6 separate regions of the Homo sapiens genome follow, and all the other regions are linked to region 3. The links come from fine-mapping of genetic effects on gene expression. A gene starts in region 3. Each other region holds a variant in brackets. All regions are shown on one strand. Distances are between the middles of the regions. Region 1 holds the start of LOC124903396 (a long non-coding RNA gene). Region 2 overlaps INF2 (inverted formin 2). Region 3 holds the start of INF2 (inverted formin 2). Region 4 overlaps AHNAK2 (AHNAK nucleoprotein 2). Region 5 overlaps AKT1 (AKT serine/threonine kinase 1). Region 6 overlaps AKT1 (AKT serine/threonine kinase 1).

What was found.
Region 1: its variant is fine-mapped to the expression of INF2 in whole blood (TOPMed, PIP above 0.99).
Region 2: its variant is fine-mapped to the expression of INF2 in whole blood (TOPMed, PIP above 0.99).
Region 4: its variant is fine-mapped to the expression of INF2 in whole blood (INTERVAL, PIP above 0.99).
Region 5: its variant is fine-mapped to the expression of INF2 in blood mononuclear cells (TOPMed, PIP 0.98).
Region 6: its variant is fine-mapped to the expression of INF2 in whole blood (INTERVAL, PIP above 0.99).

Annotation. Positions count from the first base shown.
Region 1 is chr14:104,736,924-104,740,923 of GRCh38, forward strand. It overlaps ADSS1 (adenylosuccinate synthase 1), which reads left to right. Exons shown (of 13, transcript NM_152328.5): 3 at 1,453-1,515; 4 at 2,405-2,455; 5 at 2,827-2,893; 6 at 3,678-3,785; 7 at 3,916-3,997. LOC124903396 (a long non-coding RNA gene) reads right to left here and starts at 591. Exons shown (of 3, transcript XR_007064365.1): 1 at 355-591. The variant G/A (reference allele first, on the strand shown) is at 2,004.
Region 2 is chr14:104,709,145-104,714,359 of GRCh38, forward strand. It overlaps INF2 (inverted formin 2), which reads left to right. Exons shown (of 23, transcript NM_022489.4): 11 at 137-239; 12 at 476-561; 13 at 944-1,044; 14 at 1,793-1,863; 15 at 1,935-2,042; 16 at 2,485-2,555; 17 at 3,289-3,409; 18 at 3,684-3,848; 19 at 4,063-4,165; 20 at 4,301-4,462; 21 at 5,059-5,215. Among named protein-coding and RNA genes, the nearest start is that of ADSS1, 12 kb to the right of the region's middle. The variant C/T (reference allele first, on the strand shown) is at 2,847.
Region 3 is chr14:104,687,194-104,692,408 of GRCh38, forward strand. It overlaps INF2 (inverted formin 2), which reads left to right and starts at 2,425. Exons shown (of 23, transcript NM_022489.4): 1 at 2,425-2,546. RefSeq lists enhancers at 419-1,406, 1,407-2,396 and silencers at 2,089-2,348, 2,449-2,538, 2,559-2,798, 2,889-2,938.
Region 4 is chr14:104,935,677-104,940,891 of GRCh38, forward strand. AHNAK2 (AHNAK nucleoprotein 2) reads right to left here. Exons shown (of 7, transcript NM_138420.4): 7 at 1,577-5,215. The coding sequence ends at 2,387. It also overlaps a transcript of PLD4 not described here. Among named protein-coding and RNA genes, the nearest start is that of PLD4, 13 kb to the left of the region's middle. RefSeq lists an enhancer at 3,819-4,319. The variant G/A (reference allele first, on the strand shown) is at 3,077.
Region 5 is chr14:104,784,321-104,789,535 of GRCh38, forward strand. The region is part of intron 3 of AKT1 (AKT serine/threonine kinase 1); the gene reads right to left. Among named protein-coding and RNA genes, the nearest start is that of AKT1, 8.8 kb to the right of the region's middle. The variant A/G (reference allele first, on the strand shown) is at 2,352.
Region 6 is chr14:104,770,123-104,774,568 of GRCh38, forward strand. AKT1 (AKT serine/threonine kinase 1) reads right to left here. Exons shown (of 15, transcript NM_001382430.1): 9 at 3,790-3,858; 10 at 3,333-3,458; 11 at 3,129-3,257; 12 at 2,756-2,970; 13 at 2,243-2,330; 14 at 623-725; 15 at 1-298. The coding sequence ends at 219. Among named protein-coding and RNA genes, the nearest start is that of SIVA1, 19 kb to the left of the region's middle. The variant GGCGA/G (reference allele first, on the strand shown) is at 2,143.

The DNA.
Region 1 (4,000 bases), 49 kb after region 3:
TTTTTTAGAAATGGAGTCTTGCTGTGTTACCCAGGCTGGCCTCCAACTCCTGGCCTCAGGCAATCCTCCTGCCTCAGCATCACAAAATGTTGGGATTATAGGCATGAGCCACCATGCCCCACCAGAGCGGTGCATTTGTGACAATCGATGAACCTACACTGACAGGTCATGATCACCCAGAGTACATAGTCACCTCTGGGTTCACACTTGGTGCTGTACATTCTACCAGTCTGGACAAACGTATGCTGTGTATCTGCCACTATAGTATCGTACAGAATTTTTTACTGTCCTAAAACCCCCGAGCTCCACCCATTTCATTCATCTCTCCCCCCTCAACCCTCGGCAGCCACTCACCTTATGCTGTCTCCTCAGTTTTGCCTTTTCCAGAATCTCAGAGTTGGAATTGTACAGTATGTCGCCTTTTCGGATTGGCTTCTTTCACTCAGTAACATGCATTTAACTTTCCTCTATGTCTTTTCATGGCTTGAAAGCTCATTTCTTTTCAGTGTTGAATAATACTCCACTGTCTGGATGGACCACAGTTGATTTCTCCTTTTGTTTACTGATGGGCCTCTTGACTGCTGCCGAGTTTCGGCGATTATGAATAGAGCTGCACATCTACGCGCAGGTTTCTGCAGGGACATCAATTTCCAGCTCCTTAAATACCGAGGAATGTGTTTTGCATCCATCACCACCATCCACCTCCAGAACTTTCTTATCTTCACACACTGAAATGCTGAAATATCAAATAACTCCCCAGTCTCCCTCTCCCAGCCCCTGGCGCCTCCCATTCTACTTTCTATCTCTATGAATTTCACTTTTCCAGGGACTTCATATAAGCGGAATCATCCTGTTTGTGTCCGTTTGTAACTGCCTTATTTCACTCAGCATAATGTCTTCGAGGCCTGTGTCAGAATTTCCTTCCTTTTTTAAGGCTGAATACTCTTCCATCGTATGGGTAGACCGTGTTCTGCTTACCCATTCATCTGTCAATGGACAGCTCTTGGCTACTCTGAATAATGCTGCTATGAACATAGGTGTGCCCATTTCATGCTGGGTTGTTTTTTGTTGTTGTTTGTTTGCTTGTTTGTTTTTTGAGACGGAGTCTCGCTCTGTCACCCAGAGTGCAGTGGCAGGATCTCAGCTCACTGCAACCTCCGCCTCCCAGGTTCAAGCGATTCTCCTGCCTCAGCCTCCCGAGTAGCTGAGATTACAGGCATGCGCCACCATGCCAAGATAATTTTTTGTATTTTTACTAGAGATGGGGTTTCACCATGTGGGCCAGGCTGGTTTCGAACTCCTGACCTCAAGTGATCCTCCTGCCTCAGCCTCCCAAAGTGCTAGGATTACAGGCATGAGCCACCGCACCCACCCATTTCATGCTGTTCTTAATGTATGTTTTCCAGTGTCTGGGACACAACTCTGTCTCTCATGCCTCTGTCTCTCATGCAGGCAACGGGGTGGTCATCCACTTGCCAGGCTTGTTTGAGGAAGCAGAGAAGAATGAAAAGAAAGGTAGGTCCAAGCTCCTGCAGACTTGCCCTGTCCCAGACGCGGTGCCCTGAGCGGTTGTTGGCTGGAGCCTTCCTGAGGGTTTCTCCCACGGAGGGGACTGGCAGGGGTGGGTTCCCAACATAGCTGGCCCAGCTCATCACCCGCCGGCTCTACCCGCGCAGAAAGCGAGTGAGCTGGGCAACCCAGAGGCCTCAGATGCTGGTGGCCTCAGCATCACGGGGCCAGGTAGCACCTGGGAAGTCCAGGAAGGAGCCAGGGACCTGGACCAGACACCCAGTGGGAAGTGGGGACTGCTGGCCTAACTATGCCTGCAGGGAAGGATGTGGCTCCTGGGGGCTCTGCGGAGCATCTGGCCAGGCACGCAGAGGCCAGACCCACCAGCTGGGGGTGTGGGCAAGTCAGACCTAGTGTGGGCAGGGACGGACGGCAGCCTGAGTGGGTCTGGGAGGACGCTGAGCTGCAGCCTCAGGCTCAAGGGCGGGACGGGT[G/A]TGAAAAGAGCAAGAATGTGATTCTGGGGACATGGGCACCAGGGGGTACCCAGACTGAGGCCCTGAGGGGGCAGGTCACCTTCAGAGTGGCAGCAGCTAGGGAGGAAAGCCGGGCACTCACACCAGCTCTGGCTTCCCAGCCTGGAGTGGGCGAAGCCTGCAGGCACGAGAGTGGGCATCCTGGCGGCGGGGTGGAGTGAGGGTCCGGGAGTCTCAGCTGGGGAGGAGACAACGAGGGGCGGGTCTGCCGCTTGCTGCGCAACAGAGGTGGCCCTGTCAGCCTCCTCCCTGCATGCCTTACCTGGATGGGAGCCGGGCGAGCTAGCCCAGCTCTGGCCCCTCACGTGTGAGCTGCAGCGCACCTGTGAACACTGACCCACCTGTGTGCCGTGTCCCCGCAGGCCTGAAGGACTGGGAGAAGAGGCTCATCATCTCTGACAGAGCCCACCTTGGTACGTTTCCCACTGGAGTACAGGGAACAGCCCCTCCTGCCCCCACCATTGCCAGCCGGCCCTGCTCCTACATGGCCACCGAGATCAGGGAAGTCCCCAAGGCCTTCTTGCTCCACATGGCTCCATTAGCTTGTACATTACCCTTTTCAAAGAGCTTCAAGTTGGGAGCTGGGTCAGGGGTCACTAGCCCATTTGCAGGTGGGGAGACTGAGCCCCAGACACTCATGGTCACACCCCAGTTTGTCCTCTTTGAAATCTCAACCACCCCCTTCCCAGGAGACTCAGGCCAGCAGGAGGTGAGGTCCATGTATACACATCTGTCCTCTGCTTCTCTCCTGTCTCCTGCTGCCCTCACCTGGCCCGCCCGACAGTGTTTGATTTTCACCAGGCTGTCGACGGACTTCAGGAAGTGCAGCGCCAGGCACAAGAGGGGAAGAAGTAAGTCTGCCGGGACACTCTCACCCTCGGGGAGTCTTCTGGGCCCGTAAGCCGGTAGACTGTGGGGCGTGTCTGGTCCTGGGCACAACGAGGAGGGTACCTCAACCCACTCAAAGCCCCTGGAGAATGGCACCGTCAAAATTCCACAGCGCATCACCCAACCCCCGGACGAGCCAGCCCGTCTCTCTCTGGGGTTGCACACTGTCCTTGCCGGCTGCCACTGCCACGCGGCTCCCCCCAGGAGTGCATAAGCCCTACCGTCACCTGTCACACCCACCACCTTTCCTGACTCCACACGGCCCCAGGGAAGACACGAGGAACACTAAAGCAGTTTAGTAGAACCTCAGATGTGCCAAGGACACAGGAGTGAAGCAGATGAGTGTCCTGCCTCAGAGAGGTGATGGTCACACACTTACCCACTCACACTCTCACACAGGCACACACTCATGCTCTTACATACACACCACACGCCCACGCATGCTCGCACAGTTATGCACATGTGCACACGCCACACAAGCCCACACACCCACGCAAATGCACAAAAGTACACACAGCCACACATGCACACACTCCACATGCACACATCCACCCACAGGCACACACCATACCAGTACATCCATGCTAGTGCGTACACCCACACACGCACACACTCACAGCTCAGCCAGACACAGGCAGCAATGGTGGGCACTGGAGTCATGAGCCGGCGGGGGTCATGGCCTCAGTGGGATGCCTGAGCTCCTCAGGGCTCCTGGGTTCTCATGGGTACCCACTCCCCATCTTTCAGTATAGGCACCACCAAGAAGGGAATCGGACCAACCTACTCTTCCAAAGCTGCCCGGACAGGCCTCCGCATCTGCGACCTCCTGTCAGATTTTGATGAGTTTTCCTCCAGGTACCTGAGCCGTCTGCAGTCCCCGGGGAGGATGGGGAGAAGTTGCCGGAAGGGACTGTGGCTAGTGGGGAGGGCCCTGAGGACCAGCATGGACCATGACAGGGGGTGATGATGACTGTCCCTTGTGCAGATTCAAGAACCTGGCCCACCAGCACCAGTCGATGTTCCCCACCCTGGAAATAGACATTGAAGGCCAACTCAAAAGGCTCAAGGTG
Region 2 (5,215 bases), 22 kb after region 3:
TCGACTGTTCTGTGTCCCCCCTGCCCTGGCCACCCCATGACTACGTGGGGAAACCCTGCCAGGTGGGGTCCCAAAGAGGCTGGGTGGGGGTGACTCATGATTCACTCACCCCTGCCCGGTCCTCTCCCTGCTCCAGCTCCAACGAGGAGGTCGCTGCTATGATCCGGGCTGGAGATACCACCAAGTTTGATGTGGAGGTTCTCAAACAACTCCTTAAGCTCCTTCCCGAGAAGCACGAGGTAAGAGGACCACCCCCACACCCCACCCCCAGTTAGTGCCACCAACCAAGGGAGAGGCTGTCCCGGGGGCTCCCAGCAGGGAGACAGAGAAGGGAGGCATCCCAGCCCTACCTCTGCCCTGAACCGTGAGCCACAGGGAGCCATGATGGGCACTGGAGGGGCTGAGCCCGGCGGGCAGTCCGGGAGGGCGGGAAGCTGGCATGGGGGGATCCCACATGCCGTTCTCCTCCTGGCAGATTGAAAACCTGCGGGCATTCACAGAGGAGCGAGCCAAGCTGGCCAGCGCCGACCACTTCTACCTCCTCCTGCTGGCCATTCCCTGGTGAGCATGGCCGCCCTCAGACCCCAGGGCCTGGGCCCCAGGTGGGAGGAGAGCAGGAATAGGGAGCAGGGCCCAGCCAGGGAGGAGAAGAGGCTGTGCCAATGGCTGCCCCGGGCTCCAGGAGCAGCATTGCAGCGGTTGGGCTTCTAAACATCACTCGAGCCCCACCCCCAGTCCTTCCCCTCAAAGTGTGGGGCTGGAGGCCTCTGGAGGAATTGGATCCTGCTCTGCGCAGGCCCGGGAGGGTGCCTGTTGGATGGGGCAGGCGGTGGAAACCCCCTCCCTTTGCCCACCACCCAAGCCAGAGCCCTGTGCTGAGTGCCCCTCTGGCAGGGACAGGTGGGGGGTGCAGGCCACTGATCCCTGTCTGTGCCATCCCCAGCTACCAGCTGCGAATCGAGTGCATGCTGCTGTGTGAGGGCGCGGCCGCCGTGCTGGACATGGTGCGGCCCAAGGCCCAGCTGGTGCTGGCTGCCTGCGAAAGTGAGTGGGGCCAAGCGGGGCACGTGTGCAGGAGGGACAGGCCTCCGAACCGGGGCGGGAGGGCTGCTCGGGGCCCCTGCTACTGCCAGTATCATAATGGCTGCTAAGAGCACCTAAGGGTGCCAGCCTTCACCACCACTCCGGAAACCACCCTGCTGCCACCACCTCGGTGCACACACCTACTGGACGCACAGACACACGCATGCCCACCGCCACTCGGGCACGTGCACACACACAAGCACACTGCCACTCTCCGGCACGCGCACACACAAGCACACCGCCACTCAGGCACGTGCACACACGCATGCACACCGCCACTCGGGCACGTGCACACACACAAGCCCACAAGCACAGTCACACACATGCACACAGGACACACAGACACACGTACACACCCCCCCAACACACACACCCTCACATACATGTACAGACATAAGTGCACACACACGGGCACCATCTCTGAAAGGGGAATCCATGGGGACCTGCCACAGCCACTGGGCAGGGAGAGGGACAGGTACGGACCAGTGAGGCACAGCTCACGTCTGTCAGGCACACTGTAGGTGTCCACTCCCGTCGGTGGAGGGTTTGCAGCCCCCAGGCCCTGTCCTGTGATCCTTCCGGTGCTGGGCTGAGCCTGGGGAGGAGCCAGGGAGTGCAGGGGCACTGGCAAGCAGGACCACACCCCACCGCCAGGGCATCTGGGGGCTCCGAACCAAGAGCCCCTCTCCAGCCCTGGCTGCCCCTGCAGGCCTGCTCACCAGCCGCCAGCTGCCCATCTTCTGCCAGCTGATCCTGAGAATTGGGAACTTCCTCAACTACGTAAGTCAGGGGCAGCTCCCCATCCCACCTGGTGCCAGGGGCTGGTGAGACTCACTCCCTGCCCCTCCCAGGGCAGCCACACCGGTGACGCCGACGGCTTCAAGATCAGCACATTGCTGAAGCTCACGGAGACCAAGTCCCAGCAGAACCGCGTGACGCTGCTGCACCACGTGCTGGAGGTGGGCCGTGGTGGCGGGGGCATAATGGGAGGGCTTCAAGTCCCCCCGGACCTGGGGTGTAGAGGCGTAGAGGCCATACCCCCATGCCCACCACTCAGGCCGCCGGTCTCCCTGTCTCAGGGCTCCGTCTAGAGCCAGCAGCCTCAGTCAGAGCCACGCCCCCACCCCTCCCAGCACCCCTTCCTTCCTGCAGCACTGGCTCCCCTGCACGAGCCTTGTCCCTCCCCAGGATACCTGTCCCTGATCTGGGGGACAGTCCCTAGGAAAAGCAGAAACATCACAAAGTCATAGCCAGGCCCAAGGGAAAGATTTGAGGGTCTGGAGTACTGGGGGTTTTCTGGACCTTAATTGCTAAGGGTTAGAGCTGGGGGAGTGGGAACAGGGTCATCCCCAGGTGGAGAGTATGACCACAGTGGATCTCACTGGACGTGTCCCATTGCAGGAAGCGGAAAAGAGCCACCCCGACCTCCTGCAGCTGCCCCGGGACCTGGAACAGCCCTCGCAAGCAGCAGGGTAGGTAGCTCCTGCCAGCCCGCCCACCTCAGCCAGGTGGGGGCCTGACTTCTGTCCCCAGGCAGTGAGGTGGCTGCCCGCCAGGGCTGGGTCTCACAGCTGCAGCGCAGCCCCGGCGCCACGGAGCCCTGCCCAATAGAACACTTCCCTTTTGGGACAGGACCGGGTCTGCCGTGGCCTATCCCCTTCTGACTTAAGCGAGGAAACAGGCCTAGAGTGGGCAAGGGCTGGCCAGGTCAGGGTCACACCACGGGCAGGTCTAATACAGCCCCTTCACAAGGTGGACCTTCA[C/T]GACAGCCGTGAGCAGGCTCGGGCCTCCCTCATTGTATAGATGAGGAAACGGAGGCCCAGGAAAGCAGTGTCACCTCCTGGGTCACACAACCCAGGCAGGAGGGCAGCCTGGGCCACCCCACTACACAGTCCGGGCCCCTAGCACGGAGTTCTTCCCGGGCTCCACCTGCCCTGGAAGGTTCTCTGGCTCAGGAGCTGCTCAGCCTTGGGGAGAACTAGGCAAGCAGGACAGGCTGACCGTTAGGGTCCCCGCCCAGATGCTCACAGGGGGCTGAGGGTCAGCTGGAACAGGCACTCAACCCCAACACTGCACGTGCAGCCTCAGAGTACAGCCTGCAGGGTGCACAGTGGGGTGCCGGGGGGTGCAGGGGAGGGGCTCCCCTGTCCCAGCGAGGCTGACGTCAGCCGTTGCTGTCTCTGCCCGGCCCTCCTCACCTTTCAGGATCAACCTGGAGATCATCCGCTCAGAGGCCAGCTCCAACCTGAAGAAGCTTCTGGAGACCGAGCGGAAGGTGTCTGCCTCCGTGGCCGAGGTCCAGGAGCAGTACACCGAGCGCCTCCAGGCAAGTGGGCACCTGGGCCTGGGGCTGGCGGGAGAGGCTGCCCTGATAGAGTGAGCTGGGCGAGTGGCTGTGCTGTCTCCTGGCTCCAGGGTGGATCCTGGGGCCCGAGTTTCCCCAGGTGTGCATGGTCAGGGCACAGGCCCCTGCTCCTTGTCAGAGACCACCGTCCTCAGGGCCTGTCCCTGTGGCCGTCACCCTCCCGCAACTCAGGGCCTCACCCCGGGTGGTGCCCGCGCGGGGCTCTCACGGGACTGTCACGTGCCCTTGCCCCCAGGCCAGCATCTCGGCCTTCCGGGCACTGGATGAGCTGTTTGAGGCCATCGAGCAGAAGCAACGGGAGCTGGCCGACTACCTGTGTGAGGACGCCCAGCAGCTGTCCCTGGAGGACACGTTCAGCACCATGAAGGCTTTCCGGGACCTTTTCCTCCGCGCCCTGAAGGTGGGGCAGCCCGGCGGGACACAGCCTGTCTGGCTAGAGTGGGGTCCCGAGGCCCCTGGCCTTCCTCCGGCAGGATGGGCAGAGGCACCTTTCGTCGGGCCGACACAGCCATGTGGGCCCTGCGCTGCTGCGGCTCAGGGAGGGGGACGCCCAGGCCCATGGAGCCCCTGAGGGATGCCACGCTGGGGTGACGGGGCCACATCTGCCAGTGCAGGAGAACAAGGACCGGAAGGAGCAGGCGGCGAAGGCAGAGAGGAGGAAGCAGCAGCTGGCGGAGGAGGAGGCGCGGCGGCCTCGGGGAGAGGACGGGAAGCCTGGTGAGGCTGGGCCGGCTGGGCGGGGAGGGGGTGACTCTGGGATCCTTGTCTGTGCTCCAGCCTCCCCACCACCCCCAGCCCTCTAGGTGGGCTCCAGGGTCCCATGCCGCTCTCTGAGTGCCCCACGCTCCTCAGTCAGGAAGGGGCCCGGGAAGCAGGAGGAGGTGTGTGTCATCGATGCCCTGCTGGCTGACATCAGGAAGGGCTTCCAGCTGCGGAAGACAGCCCGGGGCCGCGGGGACACCGACGGGGGCAGCAAGGCAGCCTCCATGGATCCCCCAAGAGCCACAGAGCCTGGTAAGACCCTCTCCCACTGCCTCCTCATGGTCCCCTTGCCACTGTCCCTACCCTGTGCCTCCAGGAAGTCCTCCTGACTTCACTGGAAAGCCCTCTCCTCTCCCTGGGCCACCCTGGAGGCCCCTAAGACTGGGGACAGCCGAGGGGACAGGTGGTGGCCGCTCAGCCCTCATCCCTCCCTCCACTCACTCCAGCTCCTCCACTGTAACCGCAGGCCCTGCCCTCAGTGCTGAAGCAGCAGTCCAGCCCGCTGGGCTCCAGAGAGATGAGGCCAGGCCCACTGACCGATGCCCTTGGGCTCAGAGGGTGCTAGAGGTGGCAGGAAAGGCAGGCGGCAAGGCCCTGGTGGGAGGACCCCATTCCTGGGGTGGCTGCCTCAGGGTGCTGGGAATGGCATGGCCCAGTGTCCCCCACCCTGCCACAGTGTAGACAGACCAAGGACGCTGAGGCCGGGTCCTGCTCTGAGACATCAGAGGAGGCTTTCTGGGGAGGAGGTTTTGCAGGGCGTTCAGGTAGACAGCGGAATGGAGGAGGCTGCACCTGGGCTGGCTCGGGGGCAGGGTGCCTGCCCTTCACTGGTGTGTCCCTCCATCCAGTGGCCACCAGTAACCCTGCAGGAGATCCCGTGGGCAGCACGCGCTGTCCCGCCTCTGAGCCCGGCCTTGATGCTACAACAGCCAGCGAGTCCCGGGGCTGGGACCTTGTAGACGCCGTGACCCCCGGCCCTCAGCCCACCCTGGAGCAGTTGGAGGA
Region 3 (5,215 bases):
GCCAAATCGGTCCTCTCTTCAACCCCAGGGCCAGGAAGCAAGCTCAGAATAGGGCCAGGATGGAGTCTGGGAGCGCTGGAGGTACAGAGGGTTGAGGGTGAGCCACTGAAGGAGAAGAGGAGGGGGCCTCTGTATGTCTCAGAAAATCAGTGCTCAAGCCGGGTTGAACCCTGCTGCCCCGGGCATGGTGGGTTCAAGCCTGACGGAAAACCCCCTTTCAGTGTCCACATTTCCACCCTCCCAGACCTCTGACCTCGGCCTCCACTCCACACACACACACACACATACACACACACACACACAGACACACACTCTTAATCAGGGCCCAAAGCCCTCCTCTGCACTCCCTGCCGACCCCAGGGACTTCTCCAACCTCTCTCCAACTAAATCACATTCACCCCACCTTCTTCACCCTGCTCCGGCCTGTGCTGGCCTCTCTGGACCAGGTGTGCAGCTCGGAAGCACGACTGGGTGCAAGGGAGACAGCCCCAGGCAGGAGCGGCCCTGGGGGCGCTGGGCCTCCCTCCCCCATCAGGGCAGGAAAGGTGGACCCCTCGCCCACACCTGACCTCCTACTCCAGCCTCTGAGTAAGGCTCAGGACTCTGACTTTCCCCCAGGCAGGTGGACAGGGGAGGGGGCTGCAGGTCAAAGCTCACTCCCCACCAACCTCCTCACATTCCTCCATTCACTGGATCAACAAACACACCCACTGCCCAGCACCGCTGCCAGGCATCAGCTCCCAACGCAGATGAGTCAGCCCCGCCCGTGCCCTCCAGGGTGGGGTGGTACCAGGGCAGGCACCAATGTTCGGGTCCAGGAGTGCACCAGGAGACCCAAAGCCCAGCTTGAGGGAGGGCAGGAAGGCCTTCTGCTCTGGAAGGGGCCCTGGAGCCCGGTGTGGAGGGCCGGAGGCCGGCCTTCCAGGTGCATTCCAAGAATTGCAGAGTGCCTGTCTAGGAGCAGCGGCCGCCCAGGTTGGAGGGTGTCCAGTGAGCGCCTGCCTTGGCTGGCTCCTCAGGCACACCCGGGGCTGTGGCCTGCAGCTGCTCCTGCACTGGGGCTGAGCCAGCAAACTTCCGGGGCTGGGGCTGCTGGGCAGGGCAAGGTCCGCACAGGGAGCAGACAGACGCAGCCTGCAATTCGGCGCTTATCCCCACCGGAGCGGAGGCACACCAAAGCCAAAGGACACGCAGCTGGCCTCAAAGCAGAAGCTGCATCGGGGCTGGGAAGCCATTCAGGAGCCCTTTTCTCTCCCCTCGCCCTCACCCTGAGCCCTGGCCGCCACGGCCCACACAGCAGGCCCTCCGGAGAGAGATGTCAGGACTCCGAGTGGAGACACTTTATCCGCATGTTCTTGACCCTCATACAGCCCTTACGGGTACTTATTCTATTTTACAGATGGGGAAACTGAGGCTCCACAGAGTCATATCCGAGCCTGAGGCCGCACAGGGAGTGCTGGCGCCGGTTCTCAGGGCAGGGGTTGTGTCTGCTCTGTCACATGTCACACGGGGGCTCCCCCAGGCCTGCCTTCCTCTGCCCTCCCTCTAGCTGCCAGTGGCCCCCAAACCCCAGGCCTGGTGCGCTGCTTCCTGCAGCTCTGACTGAGGGTCAGACGTCAGAAGGGACTTCCAGAGCTGGGGTCTGGCTCTCATCCAACCAGGCTGGCTTTCAGAGCCGACTATGGGCACGCCCCATGCTGGTCAATGTCGGCGGTGGGGGGATGGGTGCCCCCCTCAATCTAGGAGACAGATGAGGCCGGACAGCAGAGGGGTGGCAGAGAAAACCCACCCCATTGCGACACCTCCGCGGCCCTCATGCAGCTGTCTCCACCAACCGGCGAAGTGCGGCTGCCCAAGACCGCCGAGACCCCATCAAGGGTGGAAGGGGGTCAGGCAGGGCTGCGGAGAGGAGGCCACATGGGTGGCCTGGTTGATGGGTAGGCTCTCTCTCCCCAAAGCCTGGGAAGAGCCATCTCTGCTGAGGGATCCCCGAACGCGGGGACTCCGGATCCGGCTGGCTGGAACGGGAGTCCCGGGCCGGGGCAGAGAGAGGTGAGCGGCGCCTGGGAGGCCAGTCCCACCGGAGGATAGGGGTGTAGGTGGACGGGAGGCGGTGGAGGGCAGGGACGGGGCGGACAGTGGGGGCTGAGGCGGGAGACGGCCCCGATCTGCGCGTCCCACCCCCATCTCCGCCCACCAGGAGCCAGGCCAGCAGGGACCGCGAGGGGGCGGCCAGGTTATTCACGGGAGTGGGGAGACCCCTTAAAGCGCCCTCAGGGACCGGCCACAGTGGGCGGGGCCACCCCCAGCCACCCACCTCCCCCCCCAGGCCCCGCCCCCGGCCCGCGCTCGCTCCCCACGTGGCCGCTGACGGGCGGGGCGGCACCTCCTCTTCCTCCCGCCCGCCCCGCCCGCCCCGCGCCCGCCAGGAGCCACCGTCCGAGCCTTGCGGAGCGCGGCAGTGGGCGCCGGCTGCCCGCAGCCCCTGACCCGGCCCCGGACGGAGCGCCGGCCGCACCACCGCCCTCTGGCCGTTGCCTCACCGGGTAAGTCCTTGGCCTCGGGGTCCGCTTGGAGCTTCAGGGGAAACTGAGTCCGGGAGGAGGCAGGGGCGTGCTTGGGTCCAGGAGCGAGGTTCCGGGCTGCGGCGTGTGTGCCCAGGTGGCGGCGGGCGGTCCGGCGGCGCAGGGTACAGTTCCCGGGCGGGGACCCCAGGGCGCCCCTGGCCCCCCCGGCTCCGCGCGCCCCGCTCGGGACTATGGTCCTCCGCGCCGAGGCACCGCCCGAGCGCGCACTGGCCGCAGAGTGGTGGGCCCAGGGTCGGCCGGGCCTACTCCCAGGGCAGGCGGGATTTCCGCGCCTCGCGGCTGCCACATCCTGACCATGAATCAGCCACAGTTGGGAAAATAAACTTCAACTTCGGGTCCGCCGCCCGGGTGGCACCCCGAGGTGCGCGCCGGCCTGCGGCCCCACCCTGACTGCTTGGCTTCCAGCTGCCCACGCGCAGGTGGGCGCACAGGGAGCCCTTCCCACCCCGCAACCGCTGGCAGGCTTAGGGGAATCAGCCTCCATCACAGCTCTCTGTTCCTTTTGGGTGGGGTAGGATCCAATCCCTGTACGCCCCCAGACCCACCCGTCAACCCTCTAACTGGGGAGTCGCCCCAGGAGTGACCATGACTAAGGAGGGGAAGGCGGGGTGACCAGCTGTGTCCCTGACCGTCCCCAATGCCCCCTGGGGAGCACAGGCGTGGGGGGTGGTCTGTCTGTCTGGGCCTTCTGGGGCTCAAGCTCCCCACCCAGGGCTCCCGCAGCTCAGCTGTGACCACAGCATTACTGCCCACTCCAGCTGGACACACCAGGAGGCAGAGAGGCAGAGACCCTGCCCAGGCAGGGAACCAGGAACCCAGGAACCGGGCCAGAGGTCAGGCACACCCAGAAGGCGCTGGACGTAGGAAATTCCCTTACTGCCAGCCCTGCCCCTCCGTCTGGCACTGGAATGGAGCAGGATACTCGCCCTCTTCCGGCCTCAGTTTCCACATCTGCACTCTGAAGGGTGGGACAGCAGCTCAGGCTGGGACCTGCTCCCTGCCGCCCTGCACTGGGAAGGTGGGGTCCCAGAGCAGTGCCTCAGACCCCGAGGGTGCCACCCAGCCAGGGGCTTTTGGGGTGTCGGTGCTCAGCCCCCAGTGCAGCAAATAGTAGCATTGGGTTCCAGGCCTGGGGTCTGAGACCTCACACTGCTCCCACCCCTACCAGGGCAGCAGCAATTTTCTGTTCTAAAAGCCAGGTTGGTGCAGTGGGCCCTGCCCAGGCCCTGCCCTCCCATCCCTGGACTGTCATGGGCCCTGCAGCCCGGCAAAGGGGATGTCGCTAGTGGGGACGGACCAAGTGGCCAGGTGCGACTGTAGCCTCCACAGCCAGGGCTCCTGAGTTAACCTTCAGGTGAGCGCCCACTTTGTGGAGGAGCTGACGGCTGTCAAGCGAATGACACACACCGCACATGTGGGGACGTGGAAGCTCCTACCTGAAATAGACTCTGCGCCTTCCATCAAAGTGCAGTTACTTCCTGGGTTGGAAAAGTTATGCGGTTCATGCAGGCTGCGGGAGGGGTGGGTGGTGACTGGAAAGTGATGCGGTGCTGCCTGTGGGTGTGGGGCAGGACGCAGCTGGCCCAGCTCTGGACGGGGACAGTGAAGTAAGCTCAAGCCCCTGGCTTTTTGCTGGTGCCTGGAGGTCAAATTTCCCTGTAGTCAGGAATGAGACCTGACTCCCTGCTGCCAGCCCCTCCCCTACCTCCATCTTGCAAACAGCAGGTGTCTGATAGGTGTGTGGTTCATGGCCCAGTGGACACATTACATTGGAGAAGGCACACCCACCTCTGTTTTCAGGATGGTGGACGGGAAGGCCGGGAGGTGGAGGCCACATAGGAGCCAGTCTCTGGAGGGTGGTCCCCAGGGGCCACAGCAGACCCAGGCCTAGTGGACACCTAAAGTCAAAGACTAAGTTCTACCAACGGTGGGAAGGAGAGAGGGCAGGGGCACGGGCTCCCCGTCGCTGGAGGGGTGAGCAGGGTCCAACCACCTGGCCCCCTGTTAGAGAGGCTTCCACTCCTGCCAGCCTCACCCTAGGAGGGAGAGTCCTGCCTGGTCTGCCTCTGAGCACCCAGACAGCCTGGGTCCTGAGCTGGGGTGAGGTCTGCTCACACAGCTGCCCCCCAGCCCAGTGCCGGTATACCCTGGCAACCACCAGGCCAGGAGAGCAGGGCAGACCGGTGGTGCCTGTCCTCTCCTGAGGGGCCGTCCTCTCTCACAGCCCTTTCTAAGCTGTAATTAAATAAGGAACCACAGGGGTTGCTTAGGGTCGCCCCTCTGAGGGCTCATGTCAGTCCCCGAGGGCCAGCCTCAGGCCGGGTCTGTCCACTCACCATTCACGCCAGCCTGGGCAGGGTCTGTGTGCTGGGTGAGTGGGTGAGGAGGAAAGGAATGAGCCAGCCTGCGGGGTCCCTCCGCACGGTCTCCCACCCTCATCCCTCCCAGTGCGACGTGGGTCCTGCAGGAGCGTTCATTTCACAGGTGAGGCGCGGGACAGTCGGTGCCATTTTACACTCAGTGCCATCCATTCTGCCAGGAGGTGCTGATAAAGCCCCTACTGTGTGCATCTGCCCTTGTGCCCAGAGCCTGGAGCCCAGCCCCGCTCAGCACGGTGCCAGGCAGGT
Region 4 (5,215 bases), 250 kb after region 3:
TAGCAGTCTATCCCTTGCTAGCTTTAAAAAGTGAGCTGCTAGGCTATGAGCTGTCCTATGAAGAGGCCCATGTAGCAGGGTACTGGGGTTGCCTCCAGCCCCCAACTAGCAAGAAACTGGGGCCCTCAATCATCCCATCCACAAGGAGTTGAGTGTGGCTAGCAACAACGTGAGCTTCAGAAGTGGCTGCTTTCCTGGTCATACCTGAAGGGGAGACCACAGCCCCAGCTGACATCTTGATTGTAGCCTAATGGGACCTTGAGCAGAGAACCCAACAAAGCCACACTTGGGCTCCTGATCCACAGAAACTGGGAGATCATAAATGTGTGTTGTTTTAAGTTGCTAATTTGTAGTGATGTTCTTATGCAGCATAGATAACTCATACACAGAGAACCAAGGCCACGCGAGAACCCTGTGGGGGCCCCTGCTGCTCAGCCACTCCTCACATGCTGGGACAGCTGTCTCTCTGGCCTCTAGCACCAAGGTCCCCACTATCCCAGGCCTTGACTCTTGGATCAGAGAGGGACAAAAGCCCCATGGAGCCAAGCAGACTCCTCCCCCTGGGCTGCACTCACCTAGCTTGTCTGGCACACACAAGTTGGAGTAGAGAAGGCAGGAAGCCCTGGGAAGGGAGAGGGTGATGGCCTTGCTTAACTGGGATGAGTGTCCACCAAATTTCCCTTCCCACTTCCCCTGCTCATGAGCCCCCAGGGGACCTGTGTCAGTTCACTTTCTAGAGGCTTCTATGTGCCCTAACTTGGATGACACCCACGGGCCTCCCCAACTCAGCACAGGGAACATATGCCCATGGTGGCATGGGGAAAGAACCCAGCCTCTCCCCTGCCCAGGCTCCTGCACCCCATAGCTGTCACCCCTCTGGAACCTCTCAGGGCAGCACGAGTGGTAGCCTCGGAGTGGCCTTCACCCTCCAGGCACTGCGGTCCTCCAGATTGGCTCACAGCCCAGCTCTTGCTCCCATATCCACAGCCATGAGAGCAGCCACCTCCCCAGGGGGCCATAAGCGCTTCTCACCAGGAGCCCACCTAGGCCAGGAGGGAGCTGGGGGCAAGTTCCAACTGCCCCCTTGAACACTGCATACCCATGAATCTGGCAGGGGCATCTGGGAAGAGATTTGACCACTGAAAGACTGTAGGGAAACCCTTGAACCTCAATCCGCTACGCCACGTGGATTTGCTTCCTGTGGGCTGCCCAAGAGCGCCTCTGTGGTGAAGGAAGCTTCTGAGGATGGGCCACTAAAGATGGCCAAGGTCACCTTTCTGTGCTGTCCCCACTCTGCACTCCATCTCCCATCCCACACTGCCTCCAGCTGGAGGGAGGGAGGGAGGGTTGTACGTCTGTGTCCCTGCCACACTGTGAACTCAGCCCTATCTTCCTTGTCTTCCTCACAGCCTCTGGCTCAGAGGAGGACCTGGACAAATGGATGATAGGTAGGCAACCACCCAAATGTTCCTCATTGACTGTTCTCTAGAGCTGCTTAGTAGAGACCAGGAGTGTGTGGGAGGAAAGCCCTGGTAAACTTCGACCCTGAGACAGAAGACCTCAGCAGCCTTCAGCATGGGATGCAGCACTTTCTTTATTGCCCATCCAGGGAACAGCCAAGCCAGCTCCATCTGCATTCTGGCTGCAGCGTGTACATTAGGGGACTCAGGGGCCACAGTGTGGGACCGTGCACACTGGCAAGGCACTGGCGGATGCTGGCAGGCCAGTGGACATGGATAGATGAGAATGACAACTCACAGATGTCCTAGCTTCTGCTGGCCCAGCTGCCAGCCACTGGCCATCACCCTTTTGCCCAGCATGTGTGCATTGTCACCCAAAACATCTTGAAACTTGCCATTAGTGAGGCATTCAACAAAGAAGTAAGCTAAGTGAGTAGGAAACAGTGTTTCCTGGAATATACCGCACTCTGCCTGAAATAGGAAAACTATGTTTGCCGGGAAGCAGCAGCAGCAGGAAAGAAGTTATACCAAAAACGACTTGTACACCACAGACATTATAACCCTTTCCTCAAAGAAACAGTCATGTTCTGTTGGGTATTATGGACAGGTCTCTGGAAATTTATCTAATAAAGACCAACAAACTTCCCCAGCAGTGCCTCTGAGTACCGTGTGAATTCTGGTGTCTTGTGGAAGTCAGGGTGCCTTCTTTGCATCCAAAGCTTTGAGGGAGCTGGGAAGCTTTGGTTCCATTTTAGGAGGGCTGTGTGATGGTGACAAAGGTGTTCTGGTCATTTCTGCTCTGTTCTCCGTTCTGTGAAGTGAGGTGGATGTAATGTGCTGTGGGATGGGGTGCTCCATATGTGTGTGTAGCCTTTACTTTCCAACTTAGTTTTTTGCATCTCTCTTGTACTGATGAGCCATACCTCTCAGCCTTCATTTGGTCCCAGGCCTGACCCTTTGCTTTCATCGTCAGCTTTTCTGTCCTGCTCGGGCAGGATTAACTCTGTTCTTGCCGCGGATGTCACCATCACTCTGGAGTCCAGCCCAGTGCCCACAGGCCCGATCAGTTCACCCTCTTCCTTCTCTTCAGGGGAGAAACTTTCTCGGGCATCAAAAAACGTGATTGTTTCTTCTTGAAGTTTTTGTTCTTCCAGCTCTGCCCCATCTTCGGTGCTTTTGCTTTTCTTGGTAGGAGATGAGGAGAACCCTAATTTGGGAAATCGGAACCAGCCTGCCTTCTCCTGTTTTTTAGGCAGTTCTGCCTCTGGTCGTGCCTCAGGCTGTGTTTGAATGGGAGCAGATCTCTGGACGTCATTTTTGGAATCAACACCTGTCTCATCAACAGAAGAGGAAAACCCAATGTTTGGAAGCCAAAACCAGAGCAGACCAGATTTTTTACTTTCTGGTTTGTCTTTTGGAGCCCTGCCTTCATCTGCCAGTGGTGTGGTTGCCTCTTGGCTATCATCAGGGGGAAACTCAAGAATTTCTGCTGGCTCCTCATCTGAACAGCTGTCTGCAAGCTGGTGGCCAGAAGGAACTTCAAATGTGAGTGTTTGCTGTCCCAGTACATTGACGCTGGAAGAGATCATCTCAAATGGTTCTCCAGTGTCAGGCTG[G/A]AGATCTCCAGAAATGGAGTCTACTCCTGGGGTGGCTTGTATGGGAGCCTCTTCTGTGCCCTCCTGAGTCCTAGAGTGTTGAGTCATTGTTGTGTACACTCTAGCCTGCGTGTGGGGCTCTGGGATTTTCACTTTTAATAAGGAAAATCCGTACGAAGGTGTTTGAATCTCTGACGTGGGGATCTCTGATTCCCGCACAATCTGAGTGGAAAAAGTCCTGGGTACTGAGAGATCTACAAACTCTGGTGTCACTATGCTGTGTATAGTGACCTCTTGACTTTCAACCTGAGCACCCTGAATATGCACTCTGACCTTTGAAATTGGGGGAGCTTCCAAAGGCAGGTTAAGGTCCACAGGCTGCTCCCCAGGGACCCCAGCACCTGCCTTCAGGATGCTGGCTCCCCAGAGCCCCGGACTTTCCTTACAAAGGGCTGTATCAATATTGGCCTCTGGACACTGCACTTCCCTCACAGTGGGGATGAACACATCATCCTCTGAGCTGGGGGCAGGGAAGGAGAACCTTGGTACCATTAATTTGGGGAATTTGACAGTTAGGACAGAATCTTCCCACAGTTGATCCACATTAACCACAGAAATCTGGGATGGCATATCAGTACTTGAAGCTTTCAATTTAAGTGGACCTTCAGGCTGGGAAGACCATTTCTCTGTTTTATCCTCCATGCTGGCAAGGTCATGTCCTGGCTTGGAAAGAGGAGTCTCATCTATTTCTCCTGGAAGAACCTGGGTTTCTGGAAGCCTCATGCCAGGCATCTGAAAAGGGAGAGGTCCTTTGGATGGATGGATCCTGACCTCAGAAGTGGAAAGCTCATCCCCAGTCATCCCAGCAGTGGAGAGGTGCAGCTTCAAGCCTGTGCTGTCAAGATCACACCTTAGAATATCTGTGGATGATTTGCTCTCAGAAGCTGTCACTTCTGCATCTGCCTCTGGGAGCTGTAGGGACATAGCTGCCTCCACGTTTGACCCAGAAACAAGGAACTCTTTGACTTTAGCTGCTGCTTCACCCCCTGTTGCTGCCGGTGCCTGTGTCTGAGCCACTTCCAGCTTTCCAGCCCCGCCTCTGTCCCTGAAAGAGCGCCTAAGGCTGGGCATGCGGAACTTGGGCATTTTAAACCAGCTTTCCTGCGAGTACTTGGTCATGGCTTCCTCCTCTGGGCTTTCCACTGTGAGGACTTCAGCATCTGGTTTTCTACAGGATGGCTGGAGGGGATCTTCAGGTGTGGGGGCTATCCCCTCCCCACAAGGCTGGCTCACTGGGACATCCCCGAGCCCACATCCTCTGCTGTCACCTTCGGTAGACAGATCATGTTTGGGAAGAGGCAGGTCAGCTTCAGGCTGGCTCACCTCCACCTTGGCCTTGGAGGATCTGAGATCAGGTTTGGCAAAGCCCAAACTGGGAATGTGGACCTGTGGCCGGTGGAGGTTCACACCCTCACTTCCTGTGGCACTTGCTGTTGCACCAAGTCCTCCCCTACCACCGTCACTGCTGGCCTTTTCTGTGTCTTGAAAGCTACCCCCTGCTGTGGCACTAGAAAGGGAAGGATCCACGTCTCTCTGTGGCAGGCTGACCCCACTCTTAGAAGCCTTCATTTTGGGAAGTGCAAGTTTTGGCATGGCAAAGCCAGGCTTTGTGCTCCTCCCCTTCTCTCCATCCCTCTCAGGAGGCAGATCCATGTGGATGGCAGACTGCGGGGCCACTTCATCCTTGTCTAAAACCAGGCTGAGTTTTGAGTCCTCCACGCTGCATTCTGGGTCCACCTTTGGCCCTGTTTCCTTCTTCGGGGACCACCTAAATGATGGAAGCTTAATCTTAGGCATTTTCAAGGGACTCCCTTTCCCTTCGTGGTCAGCATCTTCAGAAGGGGCTTCTCCAGGGGCCACTACTGATGTCTGCAAGGAGGCCACAAGCTCTTCTGGGCCCTGAGACACACAGGTGCCTGGGGATGGCAGCTGGGTGCTTGGCAAGGGGCACTGCACTCTTTCTCCAGGGCTAAGAGGAGACATGACTGGGGCACCCACTGCTGCATGTAGGTCTCCCTCAGGAACTGCCATTTGGGGGACTGAAAACACAAACTTTGGTTTATAGAATTTAGGAAAAGATACCTGACCAAGAGAAACAGG
Region 5 (5,215 bases), 97 kb after region 3:
ATCCATGGCCCAGGGCTCCAGGCATGGGAGGTGGCTGCCCTCGGTGGGGGGTAGGCAGTTGGCCAGACTCCTGTCCCTGCCCGGGGGGACAGCGGAGACCAGGCTCCCTCGACTCCTCCTGCACCTCCTGGGCCCCACACAACCCCAGCCCTGGTCCCTCTGGCATCCCGATGTCCCGGGTGGCCCTCCGGCAGGAGTGACCTTCCATCCCCAACCCCGCTCATCCCCAGGAAGGGGCTGGAGCACCCCCAGGGAAAGAGGGTTCCTTCCCAGAAGTCCTCCTGGACCAAATACCGGGGTTCTGAGAGGAAGCTGCTCCTGCCTGGCCTCCCCCAACCCACCCCACCACCACCACGGGGACCACATGGACAGTCACAGGCAGCCCACCCTCTCCACGCCTCACACACGTGTCCCAGGCCACACTGTGGGTCAGGCCCCCCAAAGCGGCACCCACTTAGACATGGGGGCCAGGACCCACGCGCCATGGGCAGGACTGGGTGGGCCCCTGAGGGCCAGCTGGTGGCCCTCCACGTCCCGGGACTGACCACCTCCTGAGCCACCAGGTGTGTCAGCCCCCCTAGGCCACCACGTCCTCAGCTCCCTGAACATTCTCTCAAAGTCCCCAGTTCTCAGGAAACTGCTGGATAAACACTTCGCAGAGACGGTGGTGGCAGCGGCTGGCAGGGTGCCAGGCGGCACCGAGCTGCTTCTCCACAGCAAAGTGAGCCCAGCAGGCCCTGGGAGCGGGCGCCAGCTGACAGCGGCCACCGTGGTCCCCACTGCCGACACATCCATCGCCCCGACAGCTGCCGGGGGCCCATTTACCTTCTCCAGCACATTGAGCAGACGGCTCCGCTGACGGCAGCCCATGAGGGGCCCGCAACCCACCCTCCCCGCCTGCCAGGAGACCGCACAGCTCACCGCGAAGGGCCCGGCCTGCCAGGCCTCTGCCCGGGCCCGGGAGTACACACCCCTTTACCAGCAGCCCTCGAACCCTGTAAACAACCAGGCTGGGGTGGGGGCAGGGGAGGGGCCACACAACGGAGGCCAGCTGACCCCACTTGGCTGGAGCCCCCAGGTCTGTGGGTGAAATACATCCACTGCTCCTCCCGGCACAAGCCCTTCTGAGGGGGCACAAGTGGCCAGTCTGCACAAGGAGAGGTGTCTGTTCCCGCCAGGCAGAGGACTGGCGCTCCACCTGCCTGGGCCTCGCCCAGCCCAGGACCCATTCTGCTCTCCCAGAAAGCCCACCAGGCAGGCAGGGCGGGCAGGGCTCATCATGCCCATCAGCTCCCTGGGAAAACGGAGACTTAGGGGAGGTGACCCTCAGAGGCAGATCATGACCAGAGAGACCCCAGGTCCTGCCGCCAAGGCAGGGGTTGTAACTTGACACAAACTGCAAATTCTTCACCTCCTTCCGCTCCACCATGGAGCAGGCCTCAGCCCGACACACACACCCCGGGAGGAACATGGTGCGGGCAGGCGGCACCACCATGACCCCGTCCACCTCGCTGAGGCACAGCCGGAGGCGCTGGGGCCTCTCTTCCTGCCACTCCAGGGAAGCACCTGGGTCTCAGCTTTCCATTCTCCTGGGGCTCTACTGGGTGGGGTACTGGGCCTCCCTGGTGCTGCCCCTGACAGACCACCTGGGCCTGGATGTCCTCCCCCACAGGCACTGCCCGTCACCCACCCCTCGGGCCGGCAAAGGCACCCCACCTGCCACACACCCATCCATCGCAGAGCCCAGCACATCCCAAGACCCTGTCCCTGTCCCTGTCCCCCACCTCATTTTTGGTCTGCCCCAAACAAGCCCCACCCATGTCATGGCCCACCCTGCCTACTCAGGACCCCTGCAGATGAGGCTGCAGCCCCTCCCTGGCGCCTCCTACTCTGCCCCCGCCCACTCTCCCCATAACTTGCAGCAGGCTTTGCCAAGTGCCCTCCACCCAGTGGGTTCCCAGGGCCCTCACCCTCGCTCCCTGCGTGGGAGGAAGCTGGGCATGGGGACAGCACACAGTGCCTGCTGCGAGGGAGGGCTGGCCACAGTGTCCCACGTGTAGACACTGCCCTCGGGAAAGGAAGTGGGCACGGGCACAGGCTCCTTCCGGGGCTCGGCCGGGGGCACGCAGCCATGCCCACAGCCCCTCCCTCCTCCCGTCTCTCTTGGGCAGGGCCCCTGGCGGTTGAAGGGCTCCAGTGCTGGCCTCTCAATCCCTGACACCCCAGGAAAAGTGCCCTGCATTGCTGGGGGAACTGGAACCAGGCAGTAGGGACCTCGTCCTCCACACCGACCATGGGAAGCACCCGCCACAGAGGGGCCTTCCATCTCCCCACCATCTTGTTTCTGCCCC[A/G]ACTTGGAGCCACGCCTGGGGCAGGAGGGCCCCCAGAGCACGGCCAGCTGTGGAGGGTGCTCCTTCTGATCCCCCGGCCTGCTGGGACATTGTGGCCCTGACCCCCGTGGCCTCACCCCACACCTCACCAAGCTTGTGCAGCTCAGCGTCTCCGCGCCCTACACCTGGCTGCTGTGCCCCTGGCCCCAGTCTGTGGGGAGGCCAGCCAGACCCTGGCCAGCCGAAGGGCCTCTCTGCATTCTCCAGGCCCAGGGAGCAGCCACCTCCCCGCCAGGCCTGCCCAGGGGGTGTCTCCACCCCTGAGCTGGACAACCAGCTGAGGGCCTGGGCAGGTGGGCCCGCCAGGTTACAGGGTATGGGTGGGGTCTGCAGTCACCGGGCCCGCCTGGGGGGTGTGTGAGCCCAAACACAGCGCCCCAAGGATCCCACCCCAAAGCCCGCAACATTGGCAGCAGAGTCACCCATGAACTCCCAACCCCCTCAATTCCAACGTTTCTGAAATCCAAACCTATCATTCCTTAAGGTTCAAGGAAAACACACCTAAAGGCGGCATGGCAGGGAAGGGAACTCCCGTTGGAGATGAGGAAGTAAGGGGCCTAGGGTTCGCCTAACAGCCCCATCCTGGCCTGGAGCCCCAGGGCCCTCTGCCAACCTGCCCGGGGCCCCAGCGCTGGGCTGGGGGAACCTTCTCCTGAGGCCATGGGACTAGGCACAATGGTCCAAGCAGACAGAAGCAGCAGGCAGCTGCCCACCCAGGGTGGCCTGGGGAGCAGGCCCAGAGCCACAGCCACAGCCACCAGTCTCAGCTATGGGAGGGCCCGAGGGCAGGGTGCTGGCCCCAAGCCGGGCCGGGTGTGCCCAGGCAGAGGGGACGCCAGCGGGGGCCGCGCCAGTTCCCTCCGCTCAGCCTCGTGCAGGACTTCTAGGAACCCGGCCTGATGCAACCCGGCCAGGCTTCTCCTGAGAGTGGAAGGTGTACGGGGGTCTAGGCCCCAGCACAGGAATCATTCCACCCACATTCTGTCCACTCTCCTGGGCCTCAGTTTCCCTTCCCGGAGTCCAGCCCCCCACAGGGCATCCCTGCCCAGAGAGGGCCAGTGACCAAGAAACACACAGGAAGAAGAGCTGTCCACTCAGGAGCCACCAGGCGTGGGGGCTAAGGTCCAGGGCTGGGGCCAGCAGTGACCCCTCACCCCCACTCAAGGCCACCTCGGCTTCCTCTTTTGTTGTTTTTGAAGTGAGAACTCAACAAGCTCCCAAAACAGGAACCTCCCTGATGCTGGCGGCCTCCACCACAGCCATGCCATGACCTCCACCAGCCTGTGCCTCCTGCCCCTCTCCCGGGTAGGCCCAGGGCTGTTGGGACCCCCACTCTCTGCCCAGCCCTCCCACCAGGAGCCAGCACACTTGCCTCCCCATCTCTGTCCCTGGCCTGCCCACGGGGGCCGTTCCAGACCCTCAACGCTCCCCCAGGGGAGGCAGAGCTTGGCACTAACCAGCCCAGGGCCCGCGGGTCTCACACTGAAGCCACCTAGACGCAGCCTGGGGTTGACCCTCACCTGACAGCCTGGGAAAAACTGAGGCCCAGGAGGCACAGGCAGCCCTGGCCTGGAGCCCAAAGGTTCCCACAGGCTGAGGGGAGAGTCTGCGGGCTCCCTCCCTCAGGGTCCTGCTGGGCCCCTCATCCTGGCGGGGTAATGAGCAGCCTCCATCTGCACACAAACAATTAGCCCTGCGGGGCCCTCCGCAGCAGCTGCTCTCTGGAGTGGGCTCAGAGTCCCCCACAGACCTCTTCTCAAGGGTGTTTACTCAGCAAAGCCAAGGCCTCCTCCAGGATGAAGGGGAGTGGCCTGTACCCTCTGAGGTCCCCCACCTCACGCAGGGACCCCAGGACCAGCTGGATGGCTGAGCAGCAGCTGGGGATGCAGTGAGGTTCTATGTCGCTCACCAAAGCGAAGTAACACACTGGGGTAGGAACCACTCTCTCCCTGCCTCAGTGCCCCCCCGCAGGGACAGCCAGTGCCAGGACTTCAAGGCGGGGAGAGGGGGTGGGAAGGAGGCCCAGCCTAGGCACCTGCTTGGGGTCAGAGACCAGCCTCCATACTCCCCACCGGGACGCCTGGGGCTAACTCAGCAGGAGTGGTGAGGGGGCTGCCCTGAGGCCTGGACTGGGGGGTCTATGCCAGGCATGGGCCCGGGGTAGGGCATGGCAAGGACTCAGATGTCCGGAGACTGGACCCTCCGTGAGCCGCATGGACACACGGTCCCGTGTCACCCGGGCCCGGCCAGGCACCCAGATCCGTGGCTTGGACACGCTGCCCACACACTCAGGAGCGTCTGCCGCGTAACCCACGCGCCCCAGGCAGCTTCCCTCGACCCCCGCCCACTCGGCCTTGGCCTGCTGGGTCACAGCCTGCCGAAGGCAGCCAGGCCTGCAGCTCTTCCCCGGCCCCTCTCGGACAGCGACCAGCCTGAGGGAGTCCAGGTGGTGCCCCTGCGGCCGGCACCCACTCCTGGCCTAGGCCCAGCCCTTTCTCGAGAGCCCAGAGCACCTCATCCTGGGTCCCAGCATCCCGGCCACCCGCCTCGGCCCTCTCCTGACCCACTTGGTCCAGCCATGTGGACGGGGGGACGCTCAGGAAGACAGCCGCGAGTGGACAAAAACAGGCTCCAGGCCGGGGCTGCACCAGGGCAGCTCTCCACGGGGCTAGGCTGCAGCCAGGCTGGTGCACGGCCCCAGGAGTACTGGGGCAAGCGGGCAAGGTGAGCAAGCTGTTTGGGGAAAGTACCTCAAAAGAGCCACACAGCCTCTGGCCAAAGCCTGGCACGGAGCTATCAAAGGAAGGAAAACTGCAGGCTGGAGG
Region 6 (4,446 bases), 83 kb after region 3:
ATGAAATAAATTAAAACCCGCAGGATAGTTTTCTTCCCTACCCCGCTGCGGGGGAGGGTGCTGCCCACAGCACAAAAACGTCTTTCCATCTGGGCTCGAGAGGACAGCGTGGCTTCTCTCAAATGCACCCGAGAAATAAAAACCATTAAATACAGATCATGGCACGAGGCCGCCTCTCCATCCCTCCAAGCTATCGTCCAGCGCAGTCCACCGCCGCCTCAGGCCGTGCCGCTGGCCGAGTAGGAGAACTGGGGGAAGTGGGGCCTGCGCTCGCTGTCCACACACTCCATGCTGTCATCTGTGGGTGTAGACAGCTCAGACCCCGGTGCCCCACCTCCCTGCCACCTCCACCCACCCACAGCTCCAGTAGGAAGCCAACCTCTTAAAGCACGGCCAGCACGCTGCCATACTGCCAGGAAACTGAGACAGGGCCCCACAGATTGACACAGGGACCTGGGCCCTCAGAGCACTGCCTCCCACCCTGATCATTGGCACTCTCCAAAAGGAACCTTTTTAAATATTTAGATTTTAAAACATCTGAAGCCAAAAAAGCTGAACACTGCAGGCCTCTCTGAGTGTGGAGAGAAAAGGGAGTGGGCGGGGGCAGGCAGTGGCCCCTCACCTTGGTCAGGTGGTGTGATGGTGATCATCTGGGCCGTGAACTCCTCATCAAAATACCTGGTGTCAGTCTCCGACGTGACCTGGGGCTTGAAGGGTGGGCTGAGCTGCAGAGGTGGGCAGACGGGACAGTCATGAGCTTCGCTCCCCACTCCCAGCACACCCTCAAGTGTGCTCAAGACCTTCAAAGCACCTGGATCTCCAAGGGGTCTCCAGGCAGGACTGATGTCAGAGAGCAGCAAGCCACCAGCCCCCCACAGAGGCAGCTCTGGGAGGGAGGGACATGAGGGGTGCAGGAGCACGGAGACAACCCTCAACAGCTGAGACGCAAAGCTGCCCTCACAGCAGCCCCAGCAGGCGACAGGAGGTAGTGCAGCCCAGCTCTGAGAGACCCTCCCTGCTACCAGGAGGTGATAACTTTATTTTTCCTTTTTCTTTCTTGTTTTCTTATTTTTCTTATTGGTCTTCTTGTAAATTGGGAAAGAGGGAGACTGTGGAACAAGGTGCACAGGATGAGCCCACCCTGCCTCCATGGCTCAGGGACTACAGGACCACAGCCTGCTGGCATCTGGCTGCAGACAGGACTCTCAATGACCCAGGATGAAGGGTGACTATAAGGTGATGTGCACACGTGAGGAGCTGCCAGAGAGCCCCTCAGGTCCCACAGTCAAGGACCCCCTCAAGCACTGCCCCACCCCAGAGTCTGGGCTGGGCACCAGCATTGTCCATTGTCAATTAGCAAGGTCTCTGGTCAAGGCTGGGCAGAGGTTGAGCACTGCCCAGGCCCCCCATACCCTTGGAGGGCAGGGCAGGAGGGTGGCAGGCCTCAAGGCAGGAACGGGGACCAGGACCAGGGCACCCTGTGTTAATGGGAGAACAGGTGCCCAGCTGGGTCCCAGGGCTGCCCAGCCCGACCAGCTGCACACAGCCTAGGACAGGCATTCAGGGGAGGGGCAGGCTGGGAACGGGGCAGAAGCACACCTGGTGACAGGGCACCCAGCATCTCAGAGTGCAGGCTTCCGAACCCAGCTGGCAGACCCCATCAGCTGGGGTGATGGCCAGGGCTCCTAGGGTCCCTGAAAGATGAGCACCCAGGATGGCGACTCATGCAGAAAGAGCTGCCTCCCTCCAGGGCGGACTCCCCCATGTGCCAGAAAAGTAGGTGCTGTCCCTGTCCCTGCACAGCCAGAAATAGGGCTGGGCTCTCCTTGCGGCAGAAGGGATTGAGGTCAAACAGGAGGAACTCGTGGAGGCCAAGGGGCAGCACCCCTGGTCCACCACCAGCCAGCCTTCACTGCACAGCGTCAGGGAAGGGAACCCCAAGGCTGGCACTCAGAGTGTGACACACCTCCGAGGGGAGGAGGAAACTCAGAGTGTGACACACCTCCGAGGGGAGGAGGAAATGAGGACCAGGCCAGTTTCCTGGTGGAACCCGGCAGTGCCAGAGCCTCTGAGCACCAGGCGCTGAGGTTGGTGCAGCAAGGCCCTCCTTGTACCAGGACTGCAGCAGGCTCCTGAGGTGAG[GGCGA/G]GTGTGTGGGAAATCTGGCGAGCGTGCCACGTGCATGCGTGAGTGTGGATATGTGGGGAGCATGCGTGCGCGTGAATATGCGGGGAGCAGCCGCACCTTCTTCTCGTACACGTGCTGCCACACGATACCGGCAAAGAAGCGATGCTGCATGATCTCCTTGGCGTCCTCGGAGCCCCCGCCAAGCCTGCAGGCAGGAAACAAGGCCACAGTGTCGGTACCGCCACCTGCCCAGGCCCTGGGTTCAGGCCCCTTCCTCCTGTGATGTAGGGCCCGCCAGACAGGACGTTCCGGGGCCAGGGAGGGGAGCCGGTGGTGCAGCGTCCCTGAGCAGCTGTGGGTAGCAAAGCACCACAGAGCTCACGGCAGGGCAGGGGCTTCCTGAGTGGGTGGGTGCAGGCTGCAGGGTTGGGGACAGAGGCCCAACTGACCCCGGCCTGCCCGCCACTCTGCTTGGGCCTGAGGCTTTGGAGATCAGCCCTGGCCAAGGACATCAAGCTTTGGCTATCAGTGTAGTCTGGGAGGTGCCAGGACCGCCTGGCGCAGGGGCAGGTGCAGCCTGGGGATGAGGGGATGGAGGTGTAGCCTGTAGCTGGGATGGGCGGCCCTCACCTCTGCTTGGGGTCCTTCTTGAGCAGCCCTGAAAGCAAGGACTTGGCCTCGGGACCAAGCGTGCGCGGGAAGCGGATCTCCTCCATGAGGATGAGCTCAAAAAGCTTCTCATGGTCCTGGTTGTAGAAGGGCAGGCGACCGCACATCATCTCGTACATGACCACGCCCAGCCCCCACCAGTCCACTGCACGGCCGTAGTCATTGTCCTCCAGCACCTGCACGGGTGGCAGATGGGCAGGACTCGGCATCAAGGGGTGTCCGGGACACTGCCGGGGGAGGTGTGACGTGCTTGGGGCACAGAGAGGACACAGCATTGCGTGTGCTCAGGACGTGGGGACGCAGCAACGCGTATGCACGCAGGTGGGGCGCACACCTCGGGGGCCAGGTACTCAGGTGTGCCGCAAAAGGTCTTCATGGTGGCACCGTCCTTGATCCCCTCCTTGCACAGCCCGAAGTCTGTGATCTTAATGTGCCCGTCCTTGTCCAGCATGAGGTTCTCCAGCTAGGGGAAAGGTGGCCTCAGGTCAGTGCCGCCAGGCCCCCAGGGCCCTGCCCCCCTGCCTGCCCGCCAGCGCACCTTGAGGTCCCGGTACACCACGTTCTTCTCCGAGTGCAGGTAGTCCAGGGCTGACACAATCTCAGCGCCATAGAAGCGGGCCCGGTCCTCGGAGAACACACGCTCCCGGGACAGGTGGAAGAACAGCTGCGGGAGGCGCAACCTGAGGCACAGCCGTGGCTCGGGCCTCTGCCCCCATGGCCTGCAGGGCTGGGGTTTCTCAGACCGGGTCTCGGCATTGCACAGGGAAGGGACCAGCCACCAGAGGGCACGGGGGCCTGGAAAGTCTCAGAAGCCCTAACTCAGCAGGAACAAGTCACCCCACAGCAGGCAGCTGCCTGGGCAGGCATCACACCACCCACCCAGCAGGGAGCACCGTCTGGTGCCATGGAGAGTAGCCGAGGCTCCGGGAAGGACCGGCCCCACCATGGGCGGCCCACAGGCCGCGAAGTCCATCCCCCGCAGCCCCAGCCCCTACCTCGCCCCCGTTGGCGTACTCCATGACAAAGCAGAGGCGGTCGTGGGTCTGGAAAGAGTACTTCAGGGCCTGCAAGGAAGGGGAGCTGGAACTGCGGCCCCACAGGCAGGACGGCAGCCCCGCACCACGCTGCCCGACACCACGCTGCTTGATACCACGTCGCCTGATACCACACCGCCCGTAGCCCCACACCACACTGCCCGACACCACGCTGCCTGATACCACACCGCCCGATACCACACTGCCCCACACCACACACCCCATCACACTGCCCCACACCATACACCCCCACATCACACTGCCCCCATGCCACGCTGCCCCACACCACACTGCCCCACACCACACTGCCTCATGCCACGCCACCATCAGGCTGGGCCCCGGCAGCCCCTGAGGTGCCAAGGAGTGTTTGAAAGGTGAGCAAGGTGGCCTGGGCTCAGGTCCTCCAGGGTGAGTTGGGACCTCAGCAGGGGACAGTGCTCCCAGCACCAGGGCCTTCGCAAAGGGAGGACACACCCTCCCAGGCGAGACCCACCCTCCCGCCTTCCACCACAGGCGACTGTGCTTTTAAAGCAAAGGCCCCATCTGCAGGAGAATCGTCCCCAAACACAGTGACCTGGAACTAACCAAGTGGCTGGACCCTGGCCCCCTTCACAGTAA